4 linked regions of the Homo sapiens genome follow. The protein of the gene in region 1 purifies or fractionates together with the protein of each later gene. This does not show direct contact. Each region holds a gene or a part of one and is shown in the gene's direction. Other genes may lie near its edges.

Evidence for each region.
Region 2: the proteins of ING2 (region 1) and BRMS1L purify together in Homo sapiens (affinity purification with mass spectrometry; 3 studies listed by BioGRID and IntAct, with this or other methods). This does not show direct contact.
Region 3: the proteins of ING2 (region 1) and SAP130 purify together in Homo sapiens (affinity purification with mass spectrometry; 3 studies listed by BioGRID and IntAct, with this or other methods). This does not show direct contact.
Region 4: the proteins of ING2 (region 1) and ARID4A purify together in Homo sapiens (affinity purification with mass spectrometry; 3 studies listed by BioGRID and IntAct, with this or other methods). This does not show direct contact.

What each region holds. Positions count from the first base shown.
Region 1 is NC_000004.12:183,500,154-183,508,058, forward strand, and holds the start of ING2 (inhibitor of growth protein 2), read left to right. Parts: upstream 1-4,904; 5' UTR 4,905-5,042; coding exon 5,043-5,214; intron 5,215-5,944; exon of another isoform or gene 5,945-6,113; coding exon of another isoform or gene 6,114-6,165; intron 6,166-6,697; exon of another isoform or gene 6,698-6,857; coding exon of another isoform or gene 6,858-6,864; intron 6,865-7,905. UniProt on the Homo sapiens protein: Seems to be involved in p53/TP53 activation and p53/TP53-dependent apoptotic pathways, probably by enhancing acetylation of p53/TP53. Component of a mSin3A-like corepressor complex, which is probably involved in deacetylation of nucleosomal histones.
Region 2 is NC_000014.9:35,864,319-35,871,339, forward strand, and holds part of BRMS1L (breast cancer metastasis-suppressor 1-like protein), read left to right. Parts: intron 1-616; coding exon 617-681; intron 682-1,403; coding exon 1,404-1,443; intron 1,444-3,566; coding exon of another isoform or gene 3,567-3,587; coding exon 3,588-3,714; intron 3,715-6,041; coding exon 6,042-6,159; 3' UTR 6,160-7,021. UniProt on the Homo sapiens protein: Involved in the histone deacetylase (HDAC1)-dependent transcriptional repression activity. When overexpressed in lung cancer cell line that lacks p53/TP53 expression, inhibits cell growth.
Region 3 is NC_000002.12:128,025,042-128,033,039, reverse strand, and holds the start of SAP130 (histone deacetylase complex subunit SAP130), read left to right. Parts: upstream 1-4,980; 5' UTR 4,981-5,100; intron 5,101-5,733; exon of another isoform or gene 5,734-5,876; coding exon of another isoform or gene 5,877-5,948; intron 5,949-6,741; coding exon of another isoform or gene 6,742-6,747; coding exon 6,748-6,859; intron 6,860-7,998. UniProt on the Homo sapiens protein: Acts as a transcriptional repressor. May function in the assembly and/or enzymatic activity of the mSin3A corepressor complex or in mediating interactions between the complex and other regulatory complexes.
Region 4 is NC_000014.9:58,364,547-58,371,567, forward strand, and holds part of ARID4A (AT-rich interactive domain-containing protein 4A), read left to right. Parts: coding exon 1-754; intron 755-971; coding exon 972-1,076; intron 1,077-1,477; coding exon 1,478-1,684; intron 1,685-2,336; coding exon 2,337-2,483; intron 2,484-5,476; exon of another isoform or gene 5,477-5,534; intron 5,535-7,021.

The sequences.
Region 1 (7,905 bases):
CTCTTCACTACAATCCCAGTCATTCACACGGTCCCTTCGTTAAAACGTTTTAGGATCATATTTTGCTTTTAGTAGTCATCCTAAATGCTGAATAGTACTATAATCTAAAGCAGTAGGATTGACTGTATACACCAGTTAAATCTGTGCAGTCTAACACATAAACTCCAAGTACAGGGTGATATTGCTCAGATTTCTAATATTCCTTCTACAGAATCTGATATTTTCTTAACTTTGTCCTTTTTTTTTTTTTTTTTTTTTTTTAAATGAGACAGAGTTTTGCTCTTGCTGCCCAGGCTGGAGAGTGCAATGGCACCATCTTGGCTCACTGCAATCTCTGCCTTCCGGGTTCAAGCGATTCTCCTGTCTCAGCCTCTGAGTATCTGGGATTACAGGCACATGCCACCACGCCCGGCTAATTTTTGTATTTTTAGTAGAGATGGGGTTTCATCATATTGGTCAGGCTGGTCTCGAACTCCTGGCCTCAGGTGATCTGCCCACCTCGTGGCAAAGTGCTGGGATTACAGGCATGAGCCACCACACCTGGCCTAACTTTGTACTTCAATCCTAGCCAAAGTGTTTTCTTAAAGCAAAAGAACTGCTAAAATGGAATTACATCTTGGAGTATATTTAGATATTGAGAAGAGTTATCTCCAGTTTGTAGTGACTTTTATATATCTTTTTATTTCTATTTAAATTTTTTCTACAATAATGTGTATTACTTATGTAATAAAGTAATAAAAAATGCTTTAATGCTTTAAAACTGAGTTCAGTGGAGACGCACACCATTAGGTTTTGTTTTTTTTTTTTCTTTGAGACGGAGTCTCGCTTTGTCGCCCAGGCTGGAGTGCAGTGGCATGATCTCCGCTCACTGCAACCTCCGCCTCCCGGGTTCATGCCATTCTCCTGCCTCAGCCTCCCCAGTAGCTGGGACTACAGGTGCCCGCCACTACGCCCAGCTGATTTTTTGCATTTTTAGTAGAGACGGGGTTTCACCGTGTTAGCCAGGATGGTCTTGATCTCCTGACCTCGTGATCCGCCCGCCTCGGCCTCCCAAAGTGCTGGGATTACAGGACTATTAGGTTTTTCTTTAGTTGCTTTTTGTACTAATGAATTGATTTAAAGTTTTAGGGTTTTTCACTATAATTTAAGATGCTTCACTGGACCTTCTAGAACAAATTACACTCTAACACAGCCTCCTAGATTACTAAGGATTTATTTATTTGCATCAGGTACAATTACATTTCTTACAACACGCTATCAATTGGTGACTTTTCATATGAGGATTTCTTCTTGAATTTCTCCATATTTAAAGCAGTGATTTTAAACTACTTAAATATCTTCCTCAGAAAAACATTGCTCTCTGCTTCACTGAATTAAACAGGGAATTAACTGCCTCTTACTGGTTTGGAAAAGACCTCAGTAACCAAATAAAATGCATGGGATTTGCTGGATCCTGTTAAACCAAATGTGAAAGATTTACTGAGACAATAGGAAAATTTGAATTGTGTAGTTATTAAATGATAGTAAGAAAATTTGGGGAGGCAGAATACATGGTATTACGGATATGCTTAAAAAACTGTTATCTTGGCCAGGCATGGTGGCTCACGTCTGTAATCCCAGCACTTTGGCAGGCCAAGGCGGGCGGATCTCTGGAGGTCAGGAGTTCCACACCAGCTTTAACCAACATGGTGAAACCCCCTCTCTACTAAAAATACAAAAATTAGCTGGGCATGGTGACACATACCTGTAATCTCAGCTACTTGGGAGGCTGAAGCAGGAGAATCGCTTGAACCTGGGAGGCGGAGGTTGCAAAGAGCCAAGATCGCCCCATTGCACTCCAGCCTGGGCGACAAAAGCAAGTCTCAGTCTCAAAAACAAACAAACAAAAAACAACTATTATATTTTACCTATTCATATTATTCATATTTAAAGTATTTACAGATAAAATGATAAAAATCCAGCAAGAGTGAGGGAATGTGAAGGGCTATAGATTAAATAATCTTAGCCATATGTTGCTAAATGTTGAAGCTGGGTAGACGGTATATAAGGATTTATTGTAGTATTACTTTTGCCTTTGAAAATTTCCATAAAAGTTTAAAAATATTAAAAAGTAGAAAAAAGAAAAGGATTTCATTTATTTGATCTGACTCAAACAGAAGCTGAATTTTCTCAGCAGGCATCTTTAGGAATCTTTCACCATTACTTGCCAGTTTGTTTTCAACCAGTTTGAAGTTGTTGCTCTCCCCAAGAGACAGGTACGGAGGCGTACACATTTCCTGCCAGGGACCTCTTAAAGTCAGACTTAGAAATTCAAGGTAATCCCAGACTAATTTGGGGAGATCAGTTACTTATCTTTTTTTTAGGGTTGCTTTATGGTAGATAATACACTGTAGAGCAAATAAAATGCCTTTTTGCTTTATTCACAGGATTAAATACCATAAATTAATTTCTAGTTGCTGAGAACGGGAGATTTTAAATTTTGCATTTAGAAGACAAGAAATTCAATCTGAAGAGGCCCCATATTTCCAGTTAAGTGACCACTCAGAAGGGAAGGACAGCGCTCAATAACCAAGGTCAAGAGTTGGGTTTAGGGTTTGTGGCGATTTTTTTTGGGGGTGGCAAGAATAAGCCGTAGATTAATCTCTTAAAATAAATATAGCAAGAAAAGCATGCCTAAAATAATTCATACATATACATATATTATCATATTACAGTGTTTTACAGTTTTAGATCAGTACCAGCTAAAATATTCTTTGGATTGTTTTTGCTTTTTTACCAGCCTGTTCAACAGAATTATAAAAGGTGACAATAATGCTATAAATGTCTCCTATCCCATGCTCATCCCTCCTCTCATCTTGCTCTGTTTCTGGAGTACTCTAGGTATTCTGCATCTTTGCCTTTTTCCCCTTCTAGTTTCTAAACACATTTCTTATCTACTTGCAGATCACTTATCAGACTGAATAAAATCCATAGGTACATTCGGTGTCTGACCTGTAACAAGGCACCCCACATTATTTTGCGCCTTTGATAAAGACCAGCTTATTCAAACTTGTGAGAAAACAAAAATAGCAGGGTTCAAGTAAAAACCAGTAAAATTCAGTTCTTCACAGTGGCGGTTTTTTGACAAGACCCGGCCGAAAGATTTCACGAACAGTAAAATCCCAGAATGTTCTCAGAAATACTATCCACTGTACTGTCTGGGTTGCTTAATACTGGCCCAAACCTCAGTGTCCTAGGATAATAACCCAAGACAATTTCCCAGTCCTTTGAAATAGTTGACGTCCCAAGATGTCAAATTGCCTGGAGTGCTTTATTTTGGTTTGAAATTTAAAATTTCCTCTAGATAAAGATCTAGATTTCTCTTTGCAAGTCAAAGGCTAGTTACTATTAACAGCTGTTTCAAAAGTGCTCTAAATAGGTCACCATTCAGGTGTACCAACGCTGCAAACTGGATCTAAGAAGATCCAAATTTGTCACCACTCACTCACATTTTAACTCAAAGGTAGTACTCACAATTGGCCTTGTTTACATAGGCATTCCATTAAAATTATCCATGCATTCATTCTATTTGCACCCATTTCTTTCAAAAATGTCCATCTGTAATTAAAATCAGCTCCTCTGCCTGACATCTCATTTACACTACACCGAAATTAAACCCCACTAGGAGATCACGTAGATTATGGGGCCGAGGGCCCGCCCGCTGACTAGGTTTTCACTCGCGTCTCCTCCATGCCCCAGGTCCCCTCCGATTGCAGTCCTGGGGCAGGACTGAGCAAAAAGTCCCGTAAAGCTGGCGTGTGCCCCACTCCGCCAGGAAGCCTCACCGACGTCCTGTGCTTAAATGTTCTGACACCCCCCAAAAGCAGTTGTTTTTAAAGGCTGTCTGTGGGACCAATGCGTTGTCAAACAGATGCCGTCCCGCATCCCCTCCCCCTAAATGACACAGAAGATTCCAGCGTAGGGGAAGGGCCACGAAACCCGCAGGGCACACGACGCCGGGGGCCGGAGGGAGCACCGCCTACCTCCCTGATCAAGCCCCGCGGTGCCGGGCGAGCCCGAGGGCCCGGCAGGAGGCGGGCGGCAGCCCCAGGCGAGCTCGGAGGCGGCGGGAACGCAGCCGCCGCGCATGCCGGGAGCCGCACGCCGCCCGCCGGGGCGCGCAGTCCCGCAGGCCTCGCTCCAGGTCGTCCGAAAAGGAACCGCCTGCTGCTCCTTTGCAGGCTCGCGAGGAGCCGCACTCGGACCGCCTGATGGGGAAAAAGCCGGTGTGGCCGGGCGGAGCGAGCCGAGCGGAGCTGGAGCTGCCCCTCCCAGCGGGGAGGACGGCACGAAGGACCGAGCCGCCTCCCCTCCCGGGTCCCATTCAGACGCGAGGCGCAGAGACTGGCTCCCCGGGCTTCCCCTTTAAGGGGGGCGGGGCGCGGCCTGCCGTTTGGCCGCCCCCCACACCCTCCCCCGCTAGCCCAGAGCCGGCAGACCAATCGCCCGGGCGGCGGAGCGAAGGCGGGAGAATGCGAACCCTCCGGTAGGCGGTAGGGGCGGGCCCCGGCCTTATTCGCAGGGAGCGCTGCGCAGGCGCAGAGGCGGCCGCGGGCGGAGGGGCGGGGGCAGGCTAGCGGGAGGCTCTCCGTGAGGCACGGAGGGTGACTGGGGACAGGCGGGCGGCGACGGGCTTGTCATGGGGATCCGGGCTGCGAGACGGCACTCGTAGCATCTGGGGACTCCGAGGGGGACAGGAAGTGTCAGCGCCCGGGACCCCGGCGCCGGCCCCGCCGAGGGGATCCCCACTGCTCCGGTCCTGGAGCGGGAGGGGAGAAAGGAGGGAGCCCCGGTTTCGCCCCGCCCCTGGGCTGGTGCTGCGGGGGCGGGGAGTGAGGGCTGCTCTGGGGGGAGTGGAGATCGGGGAGCGCGGCCGTGCCCTCTCGAGCGGCTGCGGGGTCCCCGCGGCGCCGGGCTGCTGAGCTGAGGGCCCGCGGCGGCCGCGGCCGGTGCATGTGCGGCTGCTGGATGCGGAGGCGGCGGCGACGGCGCGGATCGGCAGGATGTTAGGGCAGCAGCAGCAGCAACTGTACTCGTCGGCCGCGCTCCTGACCGGGGAGCGGAGCCGGCTGCTCACCTGCTACGTGCAGGACTACCTTGAGTGCGTGGAGTCGCTGCCCCACGACATGCAGAGGAACGTGTCTGTGCTGCGAGAGCTGGACAACAAATATCAAGGTAGGAGCCGCGGGGCTGCCGGCCTCGGGAGCCGGTGGCGGGGAGCCTGTCCGGGGGAGTGCCACCTTCCCTTTCTCCCGTGACAGTCTCCCCGAGCGCACCGAGGGTCTGCCGAGCGGGACTGGGAGGACTGGAGACCGGGTTGGCGGCCCTCCGTGGCCCCGCGGTGGGCGAGTACTTCTCTGGGGTCCCCAGAGTGGGGGTGGGGGCCGCTTGTCAGCCCCCGCTGCAGACCCAGCGGCTGCAGCTGCCGCTGAGGGGAATCAGCCATTTTAAGCAGCAAGCATTTGTTCAGGCGCTGGCCCGCCCCGTGCCGCAGACCCTGCGGCCCCGGCCCGGGACTGCAGCCGGGCAAGGGTCGGAGGGAGTGAGCGGCCGGGCTCCCGCTGGTCTGCGGGGCGCGCTTCCCCACCTCACTCGCCCCCACCCCGGAGTGCGGGTGCTTTGGAACGTGCGGGGGGAGGGGGCGAGAGGCCGCGGAGGCGGACTGAGGGGGCCTTCCTCCGCGCTCCTGCCCCGGCCCGGAGGAGAGCAGTCCGTTCCGCTCTCTCGCCCCGGGAAAGTTCGCGGGCGCCCCGCGTTGTAGCCCTAGCCCAGTTCTTTCGGCAAAATGGTTAAGAGGGGAGGGGTCCCCCGCGGGAGAGGAAGAGAGGGGCGTGTGTGGCGGGGAGGGCCCCCGCGCCGGGGGCGGGGCCTGCGGGCTTGACGAGGGGCGTGGGAGGGGCGCGGCGCGCGTTCCCGCGGGCCTGGAAAATGGCTGGTCGCGAGAGGGGCGGTGGCGAGCTGGCTGCTGGGGAGGGAGTCGGGGCTGTGCGGGGGCGTTGGTTCGGCCCCAGCGGAGTCCGAATCGGGGTTTGCAGCATGTTTTGCGGTGATGTTTCCAACCTCTTTCCCAGTCAATGGATCAGGACGGCGATCAGCAGCTCGGACCGTCGCGGATCCTGGCTCCGCGTAGGTTCCGGGACATGTGTCACTTCCGGGCTTCAGGAGGAAGTGGGTTGGTTGACTGGGCAACCGCCTGGCGTCCCCGAGCCCCTCCTTCTCCGACTTTAAGTGTGGAGGCGAAACCACCCTTTGCCGGCCGACCCGGGAACCCGGGACAGAATCGACCTTCCTTACAGTGTTACCACCTACTATCGGTGGTGCTACTAGGAGGGCAGTTTAAAAGGGGAAATGTGTTGCGCTTAATAACCTTGAATCGAGGAACAGACCTTGAACATAGTATGGAAACAGCCATACGAACTTTAAAGATAATTTCCTGGACCCATTCTCTGTTTTTGTAGACACGCCAGTAATCCTATACTTTAAAAGTCTCTAAGGAATCCACTTCTTGGGTGACATAAGTGTCTGATGTTTTTTAGTTTATAAATTTGTTTCTGTTTTCTGAATCCATAGGATTCATAGGACTGATCCGTGTTTGGGGAGGGGGTGGGGAGGGAATTAAAACTGATGCGCTGGGTCCAGACCATTATATAAATATTTCTTTTACAGATTACAAAGAGTTCAAGTAACTCGTCCAGTTAATTCGATGTAGAATATTTGGCTCCAGAGCCTGCTACTGTAGATGCATATCTTTGTTTTCAAACAATTTAAGTTTTAATAAAAACTGTCCAAGGGGATTTCTACAGATATGGAGCACAAACATGAATGGTAACCTAAAAATGATACGTGCTTAATAATTGTATATGGAACCTTTCTAGTTTTTCAGATAACACCAAAGTTTGTAAAGCTTGTAGTTTGTGTTGTTGTTTTAGACAGAGCCTTGCTCTGTCCCCTAGGCTGGAGTGCAGTGGCTCGATCTTAGCTCCCTGCAACCTCTGCCTCCCGGGTTCAAGCGATTCTCCTGCCTCAGCCTCCCGAGTAGCTGGGATTACAGGCAACTGCCATCACGCCGGGCTAAGTTTTGTATTTTTAGTAGAGACGGAGTTTCACCATGTTGGCCAGGATGGTCTTGAACTCCTGACCTCAGGGGACCCGCCCGCCTCGGCCTCCGAAAGTGCTGGGATTACAGGCGTGAGCCACCGCGCCCAGCAAGCTTGCAGGTTTTTACATTTCTTTGAAGGCACATGTTTCCTTTCACAAGAGTTAAGCTATTTGAAGTTGGTGAGGGATACTATAATTTGTTGACAGGGAAATCTTTCGGATCATCTATAATTGTCAGGTATTAATAGCTCTGGTAACATTAGTAATATAGTAGGCCTTACAAGATTGAGAGATTATACAAATTCTTAGCTCTATGAAGTTTGTGATTAGTGATTAAAAACTCATCTAGTTTTCACTCTGCACGTGGTTACTGAGCTCAACTTTCACAGTTTTATGTTTATGTATATTTTGGGTTCAGATTTCATGTTTTTTATATCTTCACTAGTGCTTAAGTATTTTCTGGTTTTGGATCTAATATTTCTAGCAATATTTAGTGATATAAATTATATAGGCAGTCAAATTTCTTTCTAACCTACTTGAGACACTTTCAGAACTGCTGAAAAACTTATAAAATGAGAAATAAAGAAGAAAACAATTTCACAATTGAAGTACTTATTATGGGATAGGGTTATTAGAGAACCTTTATTTTTATTCTAGTGTTCCCACTCATAATTTCTTAGATAAATAACAACCTTCAAACTAAACTTTGATACTTAATTTCAAGTGCCTTTCATATAGTTTATAGAAAGTGCTTACACTGCGAGGTCA
Region 2 (7,021 bases), on another chromosome or scaffold:
TGGCACAATCATGGCTCACCTTAGCCTCAACCTCTCGGGCTCAGGTGATCCTCCCACCTTAGCCTCCCAAGTAGCTGGGACTACAGGCACGTGCCACTCGCCTGGCTAATTTTTGTATTTTTTGTAGAGATGGGGTTTTGCCGTGTTGCCCAGGCTGGTCTTGAACTCCTGGGCTTAAGCCTGCATTGGCCTCCCAAAGTGCTAGGATTGCAGGCATGAGCCACTGTGCCTAGCCTCGTATACTTTTTAAAAACATTTTTAAATGTTTCCAAAATTGGAGTGTAAATTAATACGTATATTCAGTTTCGGCATTCTCTATGGTACCATCCCTCTACCCCCATCTTTTCCCCTCCACCTTAAAAACCAGTGATTGTGTTAGTGATGTATATTACAATCAATGATATCATGGAATTAAGGGCATGTAGTTATGACATCAGAAGTACTAGACTGTATTTATGCTGGTACTAAGTGGTTTGAAGAATAATTTGAAGTCAGAATTTAGGATGCCAAAGCATTATGCTCATAAATCATCGTTCCATTTTCTGAAATGTAGTACTTTGGAAATATAATTCAAAGTGTGATATTCTTACAGCTAAATTGACCTTGACTATTCAACGTCCATATATAGTTTATATGCTACAAGATCTTGATATTCTTGAAGACTGGACAACAATTAGGAAGGTATGATTAATGAGCAGTGGAACACAAGTATGTTTTTATAGTCTACTTTTTAAGATTCTATGTTTTTTTTGTTAGTACATCAAAATATTATTGTAAATATGCTTTGCTTTTGCAACATTTTTCTAAGGCAATTTAATACTATTACAGATAGCAGTGAACTACAAGGATATTTTAAGAGTTAGAGACATGTCAGCAGTTTGATTGTATTTTTTCTATAATAATGTAACTAATAATTTATGGAAAAGTCCAAAAAACATTTATTTAGTCTGCCCAAAAATAATAACATCACCATCTGTGCCTAGTCCTTTGGCTGGTCCTGGCTTATAGAAAACACTTGATAAATATTTGTTGAACAAAAGAACATTTGAACCCTTATGTGTCTTGCATCCTATCATTAAACATTCAAGAATCATAGGCTTTTCTTTTCTTGCCTGAAAGTGGAGGCTTGTTTTCCATATTACATTTTTTCATTTTTGTAAATTTCTTAGTTGAGAATTAGAGATTATTTCAGGTATTGAAAACACCTCTAGGAGAAATTGTTATCCCTCATATTCTTTATGGTCTTAGACATTAAAAATTTGTTAGAGCAGCTAATGGTTATACTTTACTGTCTTTGTTATGGAGTTAATCGGTAATATTGTATATATTAAATAGATACCAAAATATATTTTCAGTCTGAACTCAGACTTCTTTCTTCCTCTTTTTTTTTTTTTTTAATTAAGGCAATGGCTACATTGGGGCCACACAGAGTGAAAACGGAACGTAAGTCATTTAGTCTGAGTTGGGAAATATTCTCTTTGGAGACTTGTTGAATCAGGGTTGTTATCTACGTACTAAAGAACTCTTGAATCAGTGGTTTTATTTCATCAGTGAACACCGTGCCTGAAATTATGAGGAATTCTTCTGGAGTCATTGCTTCACGTAAAAGTTTCAAAATTTCTGAATGTGGTATAATTATTTCAGTGTTCAGCTACATTCTTATTGCTAATAATGGATCAGTAACTCAAAAAAGTATTTATGCAGTGTTTTTTATGGGCTCTGTCATTCTATAGGGGAGGTATTTGGAATTTGTGGATTGGCTTCAGAGATTCTGTGAATCCTCTGAAATTATGTGCAAAATTCTGCATGTGCATTTTCTGAGGAGAGAGATCAGAATGCTGATATGCCTTAGTAAAATTCATATCAAGTTACACTTCCTTGATTTTTTTTTTGGAAGTCTAAAATCACTGCCAAAATGTGATGGTGTTTAGGATAAGTTTCTCTGTTTCTGCCTTCTTTCACTATAGGTGAGATTTCCTAATCCTTCTAAGGACAATGAAGCTAGACTAAAAAGAAAAACATATTTGAAATACTTAGGAAAGGAATTTCTAGTCACATTTAAACAGCTTAAGTAATCGATAAGAGACCAATTTCTGTTTAGGCTGGGCATGGTGGCTCATGCCTAGCATGATCCCAGCAATTTGGGACGCTAAGGCAGGAGGATCACTTGAGCCCAGGAGTTTGAGATCTGCCTGGGCAAGATGGCAAGACCCCATCTCTACAAAAAAATACAAAAATTAGCCAGGCTTGGCGGTGTGTACTTGTAGTCTCAGCCTCTTGGGAGGCTGAGGTGGGAGGATCACCTGAGCCCTGGAGGTCGAGGCTCCAGTGAGCCATGATCACACCACTACACTGGGCAACAGAGCAGGATTCCATCTCTAAGAAAAAAAAAATTGCATTTTATTTTTAACCCCATGATTCCTTTAAACTTTTTATTTTGTGAGGAAATTGCAGCAGTATTTGCCCTGGGGAATTAACTGCCAGAGCAGCTGCCTAGACCTGTAGAGCAGTGGTTCTTAACATTTTTGGGTAATAGATTCCTTTTGAGAATCTCATTATCATAGTTGAGTGTGTCTCCCTCCCACTCTTATCTTCAGCATTGTATCCTATTAGTTTTACTCATAGCACTTCACTCAATTTGTACTTTTTAATTTTGTCTATCTCCTGACTGGATTGTAAGCTCCACAAAGGCTAGAACCATATCTCTTTTGGTCACAGTTTTTTCCCCAGCATACTTCCTTGTGTATAGGAAGTGTTCAGACAACATTTGTTGAATGAATGAATGAATGAATGAATGAATATACCCGATGGTATTTTAGGCCCTGAGAATACAATGGTAAAAGAAATATGGATCTCCTGGAGCCTCTTTAGGGGAGGTGGAATCATATATATGTAGATAAACAGTTAAGAAGATAGTTACAGATTATAATAATTACTCTAAAAGAACTGTGCAGTTGATATAACAATTAGCTGAGGAGTGGGTAGAGTAGTTAGGGAAGACCTCTCAGGAGCTGACATTTGAATGACTTCATGGTATGCTTTTGACACTGTGTTTCCATAAAAAAGATTTTTTTTTCCTGTATGAGTTATCTGACTAATGCCAGATGATTTCTGGAATTTAAAAATAGAAGTTGTACTTAGGACATTTCCTTTTTAGAATTAAAAGCCTGGGGAATGCTTGGAACATGTATTAAACTCTGCTTCTTTCGGTATATCAGATGCCCGCAGGGGAAAAAATAAAAAGTATAATTTTCAATTGAAATATGGCAATTGATATTTTAAATACTACTTAAAATTCACACTAGTAATTGATAACATACCTGCTTCCCCTTCTGGTACTTAATTAGTCAATTGATGATTTATTGTTCATTGTTTAGCTTTGTTTAGTAGTTATATTAAAAACTTAGTGATTATGTAAAAGAATGTAAGGAATAAATCTTTTTATTACATTTTAGGTTTGTTATTTAAGAAATATTTTTAGGCCTTTTTTACATATGCATGGATTGATGTTAATTGTTAATGTTCTGACCCTTTGTTCTTCTGACAGTGTTTTATTAATATAACAGTTTTTGAACTGATCCCTTTAGCACCTGTGAAACTGGAAAAACATCTGCACAGTGCTAGATCTGAAGAGGGAAGACTATATTATGATGGTGAATGGTATATACGTGGACAAACAATATGTATTGATAAAAAAGATGAATGTCCTACAAGGTAAAAAAGCCTTTGTTATTTCAGTGTTGCTCAGTATTGTCATTTACAACATCGTTGTCAGTGAAATATTTCCTGCCTCCATAGTGTGCCTATATCATTAGTTGCTTGTGGATCCTTTTTTCACTTGACATATGGCTTGATTACATGTGTGTACAGCAGTGTTAATATGTATGAACCAGACTTCATATTAAGTTTATGAACACAAACTTTAATGCAAGTAGAAATGTTGAAATTATTTAGCCAGGTAGCTGATCCTGTTTCTTAATTCTTTTAGTAGGTGAATCGTTAGGATCGTGCTATAATGACCCTTAAACCTGACTATTATGAATTTTTGGTGGACCTAATAATCTTTAACTTTTTTGGATGTGTTACAATATTTTAGATAAAAAGAATTTGTATCAATTAGAGTAGGAAATAAATGGAAAATTAATAAAACCCTTAAGATTAATAGTAATTAAAGTATAATCTAGGGCTGGGTGCAGTGGCTGACATCTGTAATTCCAGCACTTTGGGAAGCTGAGGCAGGATTGGGTGAGGCCAGGAGTTCAAGACTAGCTTGGACAACTTGGCAAGACCCTGTCTCTACAAAAAATAAAAAAATTAGCCAGGTGTGGAGGTGTGTGCTTATAGTCCTAGCTGCTTGGGCAGGAGGATCGCTTGAGCCCAAGAGTTTGAGGCTGCAGCAAGGTATCATTTCACCACACCATTGTACTCCAGGCTGGGCAACAGAGTGAGACCTTGTCTCTCTAACAACAACAACAACAAACAACAACAACAACACAGTGTAACTTGAAAACTGCCTTTTAAAAGTCCTAGTAATATGTCTAGGCTTAAATAAAGTTTATATAACTATTTGTATAGCCTTCTAAGTTTTATCTGGTTGTGACCTTTTGAAAATATTGTTAATCATCTTTCATTCTCCAGTAGTGTAGGATTTAATTCTCAGAGTAGTAAACTTCTGTGGTAACAAAATATGGTTTTGTAGGTGTCAGTGGTAAATAAAACAACTTGAGTTTAGTCTACAGTATGCATTTTCCAAATACAGTGGTTTTAATTGTAAGATAATTTTGTCTTTAAATTTTTAGGATTCCAGGAACATTGTGTATAATAACTTTTCTTATAGAAGCTCATTGAACTACTAGTTTATATATGATACTCCTGGATTCTTCTGTTTATGTTATTGTTTTTGAGATATTTTACTACTACTTAGCATAAAAGTTGTTTAAAAAGAGATGAGGCCAGGTACAATAGATCTTTCCTGTAGTAATTCCAGTACTTGGGAAGGCCAAGGCAGGAGAATCACTTGAGCCAAGGAGTTTGAGACCAGCCCTAGCTGGTCTCTTTGTAGAGAACCCCATCTCTACAAAGTAAAAAAATTATCCTTAGTCCCAACTACTCAGGTTGAGATGAGAAGATCACTTGAGCCTGAGAGGTTGAGCCCTGATTGTGGCCCTGCATTTTAACCTGGGTGACAGAGAAACCCAGTCTCAAAAAAAAAAAATTCCTATTCACTCTTTAAAAAATAAATAATTAGGCCGGGTGCAGTGGCTCACACCTGTAATCCCAACACTTTGGGAAGTCGAGGAGGGTGGATCACAAGGTCGGGAGTTCAAGACCAGCCTGGCCAATATTGTGAAACCCCGTCTCTAGTAAAAATACAAAAATTAGCCAGGCATGGTGGCACGTGCTTGTAGTCTCAGCTACTTGGGAGACTGAGGCAGGAGAATCACTTGAACCGGGGAGGTGGAGATTGCAGTGAACTGAGATTGCGCCACTGCATTCCAGCCTCGGCGACAGAGTGAGACTCTGTCTCAAAATAAATAAACAAAAAATAAATAATTAAAAAAAGAATAAAATACAAATCTATTTAAAGAATAGATCTTTTTATGTAAAGATTAGTAGTGTAAAAAAAATTGGTATAAGTACCGTAGATGGTTTGACATTAGGAATTAGAGATTAGCATTTGAAAGATACTGACATGAGTTACAAGTATAATACCATATACATAGCGCTTTTAGCTCCAGTTTTTTTTTTTTTTTTTAAAGAGGTGGGGTGGGGATGGAGTAGGAAGAATGTGCTTTTAATAGTTCTAATAGAAAGTAAATTTTACGAACTCTATTAAGAAAAGAAGGATGATCTGCTGTGTTGCTGAATGTGATATTTTTGGCAGCATGTACTGCTGATATGCAGCATTCTGGTAAATGACAATTATATACCTGAGTCTACTGTTGTAGGCCAGTTTATTTTGGTTTTATATAGGTAATAATCTAAAGTGAATTGAGGAGACATTGTAATTCATTCATTCATTCTTTTTTTTTTCTTTTTAGTGCTGTAATTACAACAATTAACCATGATGAAGTTTGGTTTAAGAGGCCTGATGGAAGCAAATCTAAGCTTTACATTTCACAGCTACAGAAAGGAAAATATTCAATTAAACATTCATAATCATGATTTAAGTGTTATCTAAATTTACCTTATTAGTGTTACCAAATGTAAGTGCCATGAGAGTAAAAAAATGTATTCAATAACTTAATATTCTCACTGAATCATGAGAGAATGTGTATTTGTAGGTAGTACTCTAAATAGATCTCATTGATATGTTATTAAAAGAAACAGTAATAAAAATTTTATCACGATCCTTACGTTGATTTGCCTCTTAGGTCCGATGACCAATAGGTATTCTGTATATGGTAGGGGTTTCTTTCTAAACATTTTTCTTTGGTTTTAAAAAAAGTTATGCAAATTTGTCTTATCTTTAGTAAACTATGACTACATTTATCTGCAATTTTTAAAATTTTCCATATCTTTGTCATTCATTGTGTGTTTGTAAATAAGGCCGATAGAATGTTTCCTATAAATGGTTTGTACTAGTACATTAGTGTTAAACCAGAACTGAAATTTAAACATATATATATATGAGGATGTATATATGGCATCATCAGCTTATTTAGAACTGATGGCCATACCTTACAATCTTGTTTTACCCAAAATTAAGCTATTGGGGTTGAAAGCTAAAAGGAGCACTTTTGTAGAATAGCAACTTTTCTTTTCCTCTTTCTTGATTGTATGGTGGGGTGGTGACCTATTTTTACAAATTATACCTAATGAGTAAAATTAGTGTAAAGTGATAACATGCTTCTACCTGTATTTCTAGTGACCCTTTAGCGGCAGGTATTTATACCTGGTATTTATGATGCAGTATATAAGTGGTGAACAATAACTGACAGTATTGTGCTTGCTGTACATGTCTGGTCTTTTGAAACAGATTTTAGTAAGCATTTTCCAGAGGTAAAACTGTGTCCTTATT
Region 3 (7,998 bases), on another chromosome or scaffold:
GCGGGACCATCCTAGAGTCTCCTGCCACACCTGGCATAGGTGCTGCTGGGGTGGGGACAGTGGTATAGAATGTGATACCAGGAAGAGAGAGATTCTTGAGTTTGCCCAGGGTAATAAACAGATGGAAGTTGTAAAAACGATGGATACAGGCAAGCTCAAAAGCAACACATCCTTTATGTGTATGGCTCATTTAATCTACACAACAAGCTGGAGATAAATAAGGTTATGCTCATGTTACACAAGTGACCTGGAAGAAACTAGGCTTTCCTTGACTGGGAGGTTGAGTCAAGGGGAGTATTTGGACAGAGGGCAACTGCAGAGAGTCAGTATCGTTAGACTGCTCACGCAGTGACTAAGTGAGAACCGTCTGGGTCCGATGGTAAAGAGGCCCACCAAAGTGTAATTACCTGGCTGACTGGGCATACTGCCTATGAGTTAGCCCTGCTCCACAAGGAGCAGTACTATTCAATAAAAAGTTGCAGGCTACTACCACCAGTTTGCCCTGGAATTCTTAAAAAAAAATTTCTTTAAGAGAAAAAAATGCAACAAAGTGTTGGATCACCCAGTGGGTTCTTCCTGTCCACTGTACAGACAAAATCAATCCACTGAGACCGTGGCATTGCAGCAGAGAAAGTGTTTAATTGACAGGAGGTGGGCAACAGGGAAGAATTAGAGTTATCACTCAAACCAGTCTCCCTGAAGGCTCAGAGCTTAGGGTTTTTATGAACAATTTGGTAAGCAGGGGGATAGGGAATGAGTGCTACTGATTGGTTGGGGATGAAACCATAGGGGTGTGGAAGACATTCCTCGTGTGCTGAGTCTGCCTCTAGGTAGGGCCACAGGACCAGTAGAGCCATGAGTCACGAGTTCAGATCGGATCAGTATGAAAGATATCTCAAAAAAAAATCTTTACAACAGTGATGTTATCTATAGGAGCAACTGGGGAAGTCATAAATCTGAGACCTCTGGCCACATGACTCCTGAGCAGTAAAGGATTATAGAAACTGACTACTTTTTAGCAGAGTTCAGGCCCCTCTCATAATCCTATTCTTGTGGTCTTTCGTTGGTTTACAAAGGTGGTTTTGGTCCCCAAGCAAGGAGGGGGTTAGTTTTAGAAAGGGACTATTATCATCCTTGCTTTCAAGTTAAACTATAAATTGTGAAACATAGCTGAGTCTATACCCAGGAATAACCAAAGACAGCGTGGAGGTCAGAAGTAGGATGGAGTCAACTATGTTAGATATCTCTCACTGTCACGATTTTGCAAAAGTGGTTTCAATCACATCACCAAGTCTCAGGGACCATTCGCTGACATCTGACTGACTTCCACAGAACACTCACGTGGAGAATCTGCTTTTCTCTAGAAAATCACCGAGCAGATATGATGCCTATTGTATATCTGCTTAATCTATTCAAAAGATCATGGGTGGACAACACTTTTTTTTAATTTTTTTATTTTTTGAGACTTGCTTTGTCGCCCAGGCTGCAGTGTAGTGGTGCAACCTTGGTTCACTGCAACCTCCACCTCCCAAGTTCAAATGATTCTCCTGCCTCAACCTCCCATGTAGCTGGGATTAATTTTTGTACTTTTTGTACTTTTAGTAGAGATGGAGTTTCACCATGTTGGCTAGGCTGGTCTCGAACTCCTGACCTCAAGTGATCTGTCCGCCTTAGCCTCCCAAAGTGCTGGGATTACAGGTGTGAGCCACCGCGCCTGGCCAATTTTCAAGAACCTCAAATACTAGTAAGCTCCTGAAACTGGCATAGGGCTTGAATACTTGAGGAGTGTAGAAGGTTCAGTCTGGCTGGGGCACAAGGTGTGTTTTCTGCACACCAAGTTCAGTTGATGGGAATTCTAAACCCTAGTGATAAAAGATGGGTGAAGCACCTGTTTTCCTTTAAGTGTCCACTATGTGCAGGACCAGAGACATGGATGAATAAAGCCATAGCTACTGTCCCAAGTAACTCAGGAAAACTCCAATTTCAATCATATAGTAACGCCGATGTGTTTGTGATTATATTTAGCAAACATTTATTGAATGCTTCCTGGATCTAAAACCCTGTTGACAGGAGATATAAAGACAAATAATTTCTCTGTTTGCCTACTCCAGGAGGAATATGGGCAGACACAGATCAGTGCTGTAAGAGAGGTACTGAGGAAGTTCTATGGAAATATTCTAGAGGGTGGGGAAAAGAGAGGAATTGGAGGAAGGCTTCTTGCCGAAGAGAAACAGTTTTATTTCCGGTTAGGCATTATAGAATTGGCAGAACTCTTCTAGATGATTGCTGAGCATCCTAGCCTATTAGAAGGCACTTCAGGCCAGAGCAAAATGCTGGAAGCCAAACTGCGCAGATAACTAGTAGAAACTGTTGTTGGCAGAGTATCCAGTGTCTGGAGAGGCAGGAGAGACTAAATTATTAAGGCCTTTGGATAATGGGCATAGGGATTTGGAATATATTCCGAAGATATGGAAACATCGTGGATGGGAAGGATAGATCCAGATTAGTGATTTAGAAAAAGAATTCTGGAGGACATAGTGGGTGTAGGAAGAGATTTCAGTGGGGGCAGCAGCATTGCTGCAATTCAGATAAGAAATAATGGCAGCTTGAGCCACAGCTATGGAAACAATAGAAAAGGAGGCAGAGGTGCATATCAATGTAATATGGCGGCTGTGGGAGATGGAAGAGTGTGGAACATATATGAAGCTGAAGACAGAAAGGATGGTGATGCCAGTAAGTAAACCCAGGTATCAAGGGGAGTACACAGGGGAGGCAAACCAATAAAGGTGTTCAATACATTAACTTTGAGGGGCTTGTTAAGACTTCTGTGTGGATTGGCCCATCAGGCGGAAATATAGGTATACAACTCGGAGAGGTCACCTATGCATAGGTAACATTTTCAAAGATATTTGAGGCTGGGTGTAGTGGCTCATGCCTATAATGCCAGCACATTGGGAGGCTGAGGTGGGCAGATCGCTTAAGCCCAGGAGTTCAAGACCAGCCTGGGCATATGGTGGAACCCTGTCTCTATTCAAAAAAAAAAAAATATATATATACACACACACACACACACACACACACACACGTATATATACATATATATACATATATACATATATATACATACAACTCCATCTCAAAAATATATATTATATATATAAAATATATGTATTCATATATAAATATATATTTTTGAGACAGAGTTTCGCTCTTGTTGCCCAGGCTGGAGTGCAATGGCTTGATCTGGGCTCACAGCAACTTCTGCCTCCCGGGTTCAAGCAATTTTCCTGCCTTAGCCTCCTGAGTAGCTGGGATTACAGGAATTTGCCACCATTCCCGGCTAATTTTGTATCTTTAGTAGAGATGGGGTCTTTCCCATGTTGGTCAGGCTGGTCTCGAACTCCTGACCTCAGGTGATTCGCCTGCCTCGGCCTCCCAAAGTGCTGGGATTACAGGCATGAGCCACGTGCCTGGCATATATATATGTTTAGTGGGGTGTGGTGGCATGCGCCTGCAGTCCTGGCTACTCAGGAGGCTGAGGCAATAAGTTAGTTGAGACAAGGAAGTCGAGGCTGCAATGAGCTGTGATCACGCCACTGGACTTCAGCTTGGGCTGAACTGAGAACCTGTCTCAAAAAAACAAAAAACAAAAAGGATGACATTTGAAACTGTGGAAATACATTAAACCATTTAGGAAGGCAGTATAGCATTAGCGTGTTGGAGCCCTGAAGAATGCTGTATTTATGAGAAAGAGGAGGTATAATGGAGCTTGACATAGGAGTAGAAGCAGGAGACAGCCTGGTTCTAGAGGCCAAGGGAAGACATGAGGAGGAATTACTACTGGTCAGTAAGCTAAACAAGATGAGATCTAAGTGAGGACCGATGGGTTTGAAGTTGAGTAGGTGTTGGCAACTTTTGGGGAGCAGTCTGAGAAGAGTGGCAACTCCAAAAGGGATAAGGACTGCCTAGGCAGAGAGGAGGCTGAAGTCTATCACAGGAGTCACTCTTTAGAAGTTTGAGAATGAAGGCATGAAGGTGGAAAAGGAAAGTGGCTTGAAGAGGAGGAGTATCTGAGACTCATCCCTGGGCTATAGCCAGGAGCTACTCTCTTCTAACCAAGCAGTTGTCTTACACAGCTGTGCATGATAGGAAGAGGGGGGTTTGAGCCCCATTTATTTCCTAACTAATCACAAAACTCCAGGCCTAAATTACCATCTGGTAAGGGAAGAGGGAGACTTAATCTCTTATCAGACACAAATGTGGCCTCAAAAGATATGGCTAAGTCTTCTACAGGTGCATAAACTCCAACCCTGAACCCCAAGCAAAATGACAAAATAAAACTGCCCCCTTCAGCTCCTTTATAATCCGGAAAGCGCGCGCAGGTGCGCCCCGGCCGCCCAGAGCCCTGCGCCCTGCCGGCCTGCTTTCACAGAGCCGCGCCCGCGCTGCGCCTGGCGGCTCCCGCCGCGCGTAGGCTGTGCCGACCGCGGTTCCCGGTGGGGACACCGAGTCCCACTCGCGGCATAGGGAGGCGGGCACCGTCACGACACTGGCCCGGCCCGCGGATCCCTTGGCCGCCGCAGTTGGCCTCCATTACCCTTTCCCGCGCCGCGCCTCCCCGCGGGGAAAATGAAACCCAGTGCCCTCAGGTTAAGGCATAGGGTGGGATCCACTGTCTTCTCACTTAGCCAAGAGAAAAGGCAGAACCGACTTCAGACAGCAAAGGGGTGTGTTGCCCTGGCCGGGTCGCCTGCGGCCCCGCCCCGGCGCTCTCCACCTCCTTCGCGGCCCGCCCTCCTGACTCCGGCGACTACATTTCCCACAGGACGCCGCGGCTCAGAGGGGCGGGCCCGTCCGCTCTCCCGCTCACGACCACCGGCGACTGGCTGACTCGGCAGGGGGCGGGGCCTGCGCCAGCCAATAGACGGGAGGCTCGTTACGGCGGCGGAAGCAGCGGCGCTGGAGTGAGGGGTGGGGGGCAGAGTGCTAGCTCCCCGGCGGTGGCTGCGGGTCCGGAGCCTGGGGACGTCGGCCCCACAGACGGAGAGCGCGCGGGAGCGAGCTCAAGGCGGCGCGGCGGCCACTGGGCGCAGCACCCAGGTAATGGCGGGACGGGCGCCCGGGAGGGAAGGGGAGGAGACGAGGGGGCGGGGCGGCTGAGCCGGGCTGCAGCGTCCGTCCCGTTGCGCGTCCCCGGGGAAGGGCAGAGGATCCTCGTCTCCTGCGGCTCGGACCGCGGCTCTTTCGCGAGCTGGTCACGGCGGTTGGGCCGGCGACAGGGGCTGGGTGTCCTGTGGCGAGGAAGGGAGAGGCACCGGGAGGGGTGGGCTGACCCGGGCGTGGGGGCGTGGCGGACGTGGGCCTTGGCGGGGAAGCAGAGCGGCCGGGGGAGCGCGGGCGGGCGGGCGGGCGGGCGGCCGGCCCAGGGAGTTTGGCTCCTGGAGCAGTTTAAAGTGACTCTCCACATCCGGGCCCTGCGCCCGCCGCTTTCAGACCCTGGCTGAGGCGGGGCCTCCCCGCTCCCCGCCCCCTTCGCCGGGGGCGCCTGTCTTCCTCTGCCATTGGCTCAGCCTCGAGGGGTTTGGGCTGCCCCGGCCAGGCTCGCGCCTGATTGGCTGGCAGTCGGCGGGAGGGTGGGGCGGGCTCTGAACGTGCAGGTCGCTGTGGATTGGTCCTGGGCCTCCACTGACGCGTCGGGCGTGGGGCCAATGGGCGGGCGGGGGAGGCAGGGGCAGGTTCGGGGGAAGAGGACTGCGAGCACAGCGGCGGCCGGGTGGCGGGGGTGAGTGGGGCCAGCGGGGCTGGACAGCAGCGGGCCCCGGGCGCCGCCGCCGCGATCCCTCCCCGCGCCCGCCGAGCACATCGCCGCCGCCGAGATGGGCCCTCCGCGGCACCCCCAGGCCGGCGAGATAGAAGCGGGCGGTGCGGGCGGCGGGCGGCGGCTACAGGTAAAGAGGCACAGTGCTCGTCTTGTGGTCGGGTCCCCAGATCGCCCGTCCGCACCCCCACCCCGGAGACGGGGGTCTCACACTCCGAGGTGTCTGGAAACCGGCGTCCTCCGGTCTCAGCGGGGGCTTCGCGGTGGGGTGGGGTTGCGGGCGAATCGGGAGATCGCTTGGCTCCTGAGGGAAAAGTGGGGGGCGATTTTAGGGAAGATGGAGAAGGTGTAGGGTCCTCTGGCTCTGTGAGGGGATCTGTGGAAGAGAAGGAAAAGGAAATCCGTAAATGGAGGCCTTTGCCGAAAAGCATTGGAGAATTCCTTTTGCATCGGGTCTGGATGTAAGATATCGGATCTTTTCTTAGGGCTGGATATCTTCCTCCGAATGTTCCTATGACATACTAATCACAGTTCTGTTCACCTTGGTGTGAGATTTGAGTGTTTCAAAGAGACATGCCATTTTCCATAAAACTTTACACAGAGAAATACACATGCATTGTGGTAATACCTGTCATGTGACTCTTGTACAGGATTCAATGGTGATTTTTTTAGCATAGCAATCCACAAGTATTTATGGAGGGTCATAGTACCCGCCAGCTCCGTATAAACAATATTTGTAGAAAACTTAGGTAGTTTAGATAATGTCTGCATTTATATTGATCCCAAGTTATTGTTTTTAAATAAATGATGCAGCATTTGCTTTTCCAAGGGACTATCTCATAGGTACTAAAGATGCTTTAATTTCTCAGTATTGATTCAGATCTCAGAATCTAGTAATAACCATATAACTGTATGTACTACAGGTGGAAATGAGTTCTCAACAGTTTCCTCGGTTAGGAGCCCCTTCTACCGGGCTGAGCCAGGCCCCTTCTCAGATTGCAAACAGTGGTTCTGCTGGATTGATAAACCCAGCTGCTACAGGTGAGATATGTAATATTCTAATATATTTTTTCCTACTTTAAGAATATTACCAGTTTTCTAACTTAAAAATTAGCAGATTCTTCTAGGATTTTAGTAAATTCTTGTTTCTTGAATTTGAAGAAAGGGTATATTACTATTCTAATTTAAACAAGGCTTTTTTTCCTTCCTGTTTTAACCACTTCATTCACATAGAGTACACATGCAACTTATAGCAAAGCGTGCCTGTAAGAACTGTTTTTGAAATGCATTAATATATTCTTGTTTAATTAATGTCCAGGAGTATAGCATTAGTGCTGTGAGGGAGCCCAGAGGTGTTTAAGGAACAGATCTTGTCTTTTAGGGGTTTATTATCTAGGAAAAGAAGTGGAAAACAAAGGATATGCGGTTTCCCTATGGTGTCTGTGGGGGATTGTTTCCAGGACCCACCTTAGATACCAAAATCCATGATGCTCCACTTTCTGATGTAAAATGGTATAGTGTTTGCATATTACCTATACCTATCCTCCAGTATATTTTAAATCATCTCTAGATTACTTGTAATACCTCCTACAATGTAAATGGTATGTAAATAGTTGTTATACTGTATTGCTAAGGGAATAATGACAAGAGAAAAAAGTCTGTATGTGCTTAGTACAGATGCAAGCAGGGTTTTTTTCCCCCCCTGAATATTTAACATCCAAAGTTGGTTGAATTCACATCAGGGAACCCATGGATACAGAGGGCTGATTGTATACACATAGATAAAACTTGGTTTTTAGTCTTATACCCTTTGAGTGGTAGAAATTAGTGGTTCTCAGTGACAGGTGTTTGGGGAGGTGATTTTTCCTCCAGGGGAGTACTTGGCAATATCTAAAGACAGTTTGGTTGTCACAACTAAAGAGTACTATTGGCATCTGATAGGTAGAGGCCAGGGATACTGCTTAACATCCTGCAAGGTAATGGGAAGCCCCCCACAACAGAGAAGTATCCAGTCCAGTCAGCAGTGCTGAAGTTGAGGAATTCCTTCAAATACTCTTTTTCTCTATGTATTAAGTAAATATATGACATTGCAAAGTGAAATAAATGCTTTTCTATTCCTTTTTCTTCACCACTGGATTCTGGTGTTCCTTATGGTAAATGATACCACTGTCTACTCATTG
Region 4 (7,021 bases), on another chromosome or scaffold:
GAACCTCATATAGAAGCTCATAGTCTTGAATTGTCTTCATTAGACAATAAAAACTTTTCTTCTGCTACAGAAGATGAAATTGACCAATGTGTGAAAGAAAAGAAGTTGAAACGGAAAATACTAGGACAATCATCGCCAGAGAAAAAAATAAGAATTGAGAATGGAATGGAAATGACAAATACTGTATCTCAAGAAAGGACCAGTGATTGTATTGGATCTGAGGGAATGAAAAACTTAAATTTTGAACAGCACTTTGAAAGAGAAAATGAAGGAATGCCATCATTGATAGCAGAGTCAAACCAATGCATCCAACAACTGACTAGTGAAAGATTTGATAGTCCAGCTGAAGAAACTGTAAATATTCCACTAAAAGAAGATGAGGATGCAATGCCTCTGATCGGGCCTGAAACCTTGGTTTGCCATGAAGTAGATTTGGATGATTTGGATGAAAAGGATAAGACCAGCATTGAGGATGTAGCAGTTGAAAGCTCTGAGTCTAACTCTCTTGTTTCTATTCCACCTGCCCTACCTCCTGTAGTCCAACATAACTTTTCAGTAGCTTCACCACTTACTCTTAGTCAAGATGAGTCTCGAAGCGTAAAAAGTGAGAGTGATATAACGATTGAAGTTGATAGTATTGCTGAAGAATCTCAAGAAGGTCTCTGTGAGAGGGAATCGGCAAATGGATTTGAAACTAATGTTGCCTCTGGTACCTGTAGTATAATTGTACAAGAGAGAGAGAGCAGAGAGAAGGGTAAGGACTTTCTAGGGAAAAGTAAGTGTTTATATGAAACCAAAAATCAAAACTGTTGAGTTTCAGGTACTGTTGATCTGTAAAGTACTTTCTTTTTCTTTTCTCTCTTCTTTTCTTATTAAAAAGAAAGAAATGTCAGTGTAGTCTGTTGAATAATATACTTGCTCTTTTTTTTTTTTTTTTTTTTTTCAACATTCTCTCTTTCCCCTTATTTCAGGTCAGAAGAGGCCAAGTGATGGAAATAGTGGATTAATGGCAAAAAAGCAAAAGCGTACCCCAAAGCGAACAAGTGCTGCAGCCAAAAATGAAAAGAATGGAACAGGTTGGTGTCTTTCAATGCTAGCTTTTGTATAGTGTTAGTATTTTTAGCAGTTTGTTGGCTTGTTTTAAACATAAATGGAGCAATACTATATTGTTTTATAACTGCATTTTCATTTAACAGTATTATACTAGATATTTTGCCATTTTTATTCTTAGGAACTCTAGCTCATTCTTTTTAACAACTTTAGGAAAGTATTCAATAGTTTATCATTTTTAACCATTTCCCCGTTGGTGAGCATTTAGGTTTTTTTGTTTTTTTGTTGTTTTTATATTGTTATAAACTTTGTGCATTTGTGCACTTATTTCTGTAGGATACCAAGAAATGTAATTGTTAGGTCTGTTGCATTTTGATATTTAAGAATTTTATTTATAATCTGAGTCAATCTTTTTTATTATTTATAGGACAAAGCAGTGATAGTGAAGATCTTCCTGTCCTAGACAATTCAAGTAAATGTACCCCAGTAAAGCATCTTAATGTATCTAAGCCACAGAAACTTGCACGATCTCCTGCAAGAATATCCCCGCACATCAAAGATGGAGAGAAAGATAAACACAGAGAAAAACATCCGAATTCATCCCCTAGGACATATAAATGGAGCTTTCAGCTCAGTAAGAAGCTTATAGAAAACTTGATAGATGAATACTGTAAAGTGGAATAGATCTTAAAATATCAACTTGGATTAATGTTAATAAAATAAGGAATAATGATTAACTATTTAGATATTCCAAATATTGCCTTAGCAAGAATCACCACATGTTGTCTTAAGTATAAATCTGTGTCTTTTCATAAAACTGACTTGATAAATATTGACTTACAGGAAGGTCTCCATTAAGAAGCCATGTATGATTTATATAAATCAGTGAAATTGAAGTGCCCTTTGTAGCACTAACAATTAGAAATAGCCAGTAGTTATTTCTATTATGTAACTAGTAGTAGTGAAGAAAATGTCAATACAGGGAAACTATTCTGATAACTATAATTATAGATAGGTCAGGGTTAGTTTGTGTTGATGTTTTCTTATGTTTTTCTGATCATTTAAGTAATAAATGTTTAGTATAGAAAATTTGGGATCTAAAAATAATTCTTAATCATGAATTTAATTCACGACTTCCTTGTTTTCAGTCTTATTCAGCTTACTGTAGGAGATTTTAATAAACTAAAGCTTTTGTTGATTTATGAGTTAGACGTTTGATAGAATTGTCATCATTTTTCTCACAGAATTATTTTAAAATCCAAATTAACTTCTTTCCCCCCTTTTAGATGAATTAGATAATATGAACAGTACAGAGAGAATCTCATTTCTCCAAGAAAAACTACAGGAAATCAGAAAATATTATATGTCTTTGAAGTCTGAAGTTGCAACCATAGACAGGAGGAGAAAAAGATTAAAAAAGAAAGACAGGGAAGGTAATTTTATTATGATTTTTCTCCCCTTATATTTCAAAACTATATCCTATCATTTTAGAAGATTTAAATTTGATACTCTTTGAATATAGTACACATTCATTAATTGCTGTTTTTAAATTCCTAGTGTTTTCTATTGTTGAAATGAGTAGGTCAGCAACTGAGTTAATCAGAATGACACCCTTAAAAGGGAGTATGAACTGTTTTCCAAAATGGGTGATTGTACTAAATGTGATGGATTCTCAGGTAGAGCATAGTCCTTCTGAAATTCACTCTTTGCTCAAACATTTATTGGCATCTATTAACAGGCACTGTATTTGTTATGGGGTTCACCAAAATGAATGAGACATAAGGCTTATTCTCAAGGAGATTATCTTGTTGGGATTATAAATCATTTCCTAAGCAACTAAAATATAAGATAGTGCAGCTCAGCAACTTTAAAGAGCACATGCCATGTGCCAGGCACTCTGCCAGGTGGCGGAAGTACAGAAATGAGTTAGATACAGACTTTCTTCTCAAAGATCTTAACATCTAGTGGAACAGTGTGTACCCTGAGAATGATATTAACGAGTACAAGAGTTAGTGGAAGGAGAGGTTACTTTGGAGTAGTCAGAGAGAGGGAGTAGTGTCTGAGCTAGCCCTTCGGGGGTTGTAGGATTGACTTCCAGTTAAACATGAACATGTCCATCTACAGTCCATCCCTAAGCCCTGCTAAAATAACAGTAAAGGAAATTAAAAGCCCTAAACTCAAAAGGACAAGAGAATGACCACAACAGACAAGAAATGTCAACAGTATATCTTTTGGAAGCTGCATAACAGATGGACTACTGTAACTGTCCCAGCAGATGAGATAATGCTGAAACTAAGCTTGCTTGTCCTTGTAGTGGGACAAAACAACAAGAAGCAAGCCAATTAATACCATGTAACCCCAGAAAAGCTTTCAGAAGGGATATGGGACGATGCTGAAAAATGGGATTGGTTGAAAATGGAAAGAGAAATTGGATCTCTTCTTCCCATCTGTGAAGCAAGTCTACCTCACCCCCAACTCAAGCAGAAAATAGATTAACTTAAAAGAGAATGAGGAAATCAGTAGGCCTGTAGACTTGGGGGCACCAGCCACAGCTGAGGGTAATGATTAAGTGCTAAACCAAAATAATGGATGGAGTGAAAGTTTGCATACTGAATAGTTAGATTGCTGTCCCTCTTCTAACTCAAGGCCTAATCCTCTTGGCTTCCTGAAAGCTGGCAGCCAAGCTTATGCTTATTCCTGGGAGGAGATTGGAAGATTCTTCTAAAGAAAATGACCAGCCCAAGAAAAATTACCTACTATTTGGATGTTCCTGAAACAAAAATCAAGATCCTTGCCAATCACTACATGTGCATTTTCTGTATTTAAAAGCCCTGATGCTCATATACAGCTTTCAGTCAGCTTTTTAATGTTAAATATGGAAGCCACATGACCAGACATTTGAGGAAAGCCCCTACATAAAGGCAGAAGCCAAAGTAGAAAAAGGAGAATAAAAAGGAACTGGAAGAAAAAAAACAGATAATGTACCATATTAAAAAAAAAATAGGACAAAACTATTCTTAATAGTTAATCCAAGTTGAGTATCCTTTATTTGAAATGCTTGGGTCTAGAAGTGTTTGGGTTTTTTATTTTTTTCAGATTTTGGAATATTTGTACATAATGAAATATCTTGGTGATGGGACCCAAGTCTAAACACAAAATTCATTTATGTTTCATAGACACTTTATACACATAGCCTGAAGGTAATTTTATATAAATAATTTTGTGCATGAAACAAAGTTTGTGGTAAGTGCTTATGTGTGGAATTTTCCACTTGTGGCACCACGTTGGTGCTCAAAAGTTTCAGATTTTGGATTTTTGGATTAGGGATGTTCAATTTGTATCCAGAGATAAAGGGAAAGAGATTGCCACCTTGAAACAAAAGCATAATAACTATTTTAAAAATTCAGAGAACAAGAAGGATATCTTTAAAATATGATAGCAGGAATTTAAAAAAAATAATAAGGCAGTGAAGCTGAAGAAATTCCACTAGAGGGTCAAAAAGACAATAGGAGAGAAGAAATAAGAGAAATATGGAATCTGGCGAGGAGATCCAACTTCTGAATCATAGGATTTCTAGAAGGAGAGTTGAATAAACAAGAGGAAGTTGTCATCAAAGATATTTTTAAAATTCTAGAACTGAAGGATATGAGTTAGAAAAGGACTCACTGTGCCCTCTATAAATAATGGGGGTGAAAATCACCAAAGCATATGAAATTTCAGAATCCTGTGGATAAAGAGTAGATTCTAGGCCTGGCACAGCGGCTCACGCCTGTAATCCCAGCATTTTGGGAGGCAGAGGCAGGCAGATCACTGGAGGCCAGGAGTTTAAGACCAACCTGGCCAACATGACAAAACCCTGTCTCTACTAAAACTACAAAAGTCAGCTGCGCATGGTGGCAGATGCCTGTAATCCCAGCCACTCAGGAGGCTGAGGCTTGAGGATCACTTGAACCCGGAAGTGAGCACCGAGATCGCGCCAGTGCACTCCAGCCTGGGTGACAGAGTGAGAGTCTGTCTCAAAAAAAAAAAAAAAAAAGTAGATTCTAAAAATTTACCATATAAAGATACATATATAAAAAGAAATGGATCTCAGAACAGCATCAAGAGTCTTACATCCGATTTCTCAATGGTAGTACTAGAAACTAGAAGCCAAGCTAAGAAGACATGGGACTGGCAAACAAGGAATCCTACATAGGAAAATAGTGAAGGAATATCTGAAGGTGATGGTGAATGGAAGCTCTAGGATGACCACTGCATAGCAGACCTAGAAAGCAACTATTCCAGGAGTAGGATGGAACAGGAGGGGAAAGCTCCAGAAGGGATGTCTCTTAAAAACCAAATAAAAGGTAAATTACCTGATAGGGTTGATCATGTTGAGAGAAGTTTTCTGCCTCTAGTAGAGATTTAGTGGATGACTTTGTGGTAGAGTGACGTGTCATGTGTGGCCTTGACCATTGTGCTCCAAGTCCAGCAGTTTTTAATTCCTAGAAATAGGAACAGGATGGAGCAAATGGAAAGAGATCAGACTTCTCATGTTCATCCTTTTCTTTTAAAAACTGTAAATAGCAAGAAGTCTTTACAGAACTTTTGAATATCAAAAGAAGAAAAGAACAAATTAGCAAATTAAAATTTCTTCAAAGAACCCACCACTTGCTCTGGGGTCAGTTTCCTAAAGGTGACATACATTTCAGACAATTAAAAAGATTTTCTTTTTGTTGAGACAGAGTTTCACTCTTGTTGCCCAGGCTGGAGTGCAATGGCACAGTCTTGGCTCACTGCAGCCTCCGCCTCCCGGGTTCAAGCCATTTTCCTGCCTCAGCCTCCCGGGTAGCTGGGATTACAGGTGCCCGCCACCATGCCTGGCTAATTTTTGTATTTTTAGTAGAGATAGGGTTTCACCATGTTGACCAGGCTGGTCTCCAACTCCTGATCCCAAGTAATCTGCCCACCTCGTCCTCCCAAAGTGCTGGAATTACAGGCATGAGCCACAGCGCCCAGCCAAAAAGATTTTTTTATTACCGTCTTTTTTGTTGTTGGGGGGTACAGGCTCTGGCACCCAGACTGGAGTGCAGTGGCATGATCACGGCTTACTGCAGCCTCAGACTCTTGGGCTCAAGCGACTCCCACCTCAGCCTCCCGAGTAGCTGGTACCACAGTGCCTGCCACCACACCCAGCTAATTTTTTAGTTTTTTTTGTAGAGGCATATTCTCACTATGTGGCTCAGGCTGGTCTGGAACCCCTGTTCTAAAGCAATCCTTTTGCTTTGGCCTCCCAAAGTGCTGAGATTATAGGCATGAGCCAACATGCCCAGCTTATTATAGTCTTTTCCCCATTTTTATTTGCTTATGTTTTTATAATGAGTTATTAAATTGAGATTTGAGTGATTTGTAGCATACATGTAAGAATTTGTTGCCTGGGCATGGGGCTCACGCTTATAATTCCAGCACTTTGGGAGGCTGGAGCAGGAAGATCACTTGAGTCCAGGTGTTTGAGACCAGCCTGGGCAACGTAGTGAAATCCCATCTCTACAAAAAATTTAAAAATTAGCTGGGTACAGTGGCATGTCTTAGCTACTTGGAAGGCTGAGGCAGGAGGGTCGCTTGAGCCCCAGAGGTTGTCATGATACTTGAATAAACAAAAATTAAAATTTTAAATAAAATAGGAACAATCAGGCAAAGAAAGGCAGAAGACAAGAGTATTGCAAGGAAAGAGAAGATAAAAGCAAAGAACTTAAAAAGTGGCAAAACACCTAATGCTCAGAGTACCGATCCCTAATCTGTGTTATGTCCTCCTGGAGAAAATTATGTTAAAACCATTTGAGGACTTTTTGCTTATCACACATCATTACTTTGATCCTGATCTCCATGATTCTGATACCTGTCAGAGGAAATCCTCTGAGTTAAATTAATTCTCTTACGGTCCTATGACCCATAGATAAAGCAGAAATTCCATATGGTTCCATGTTTATCT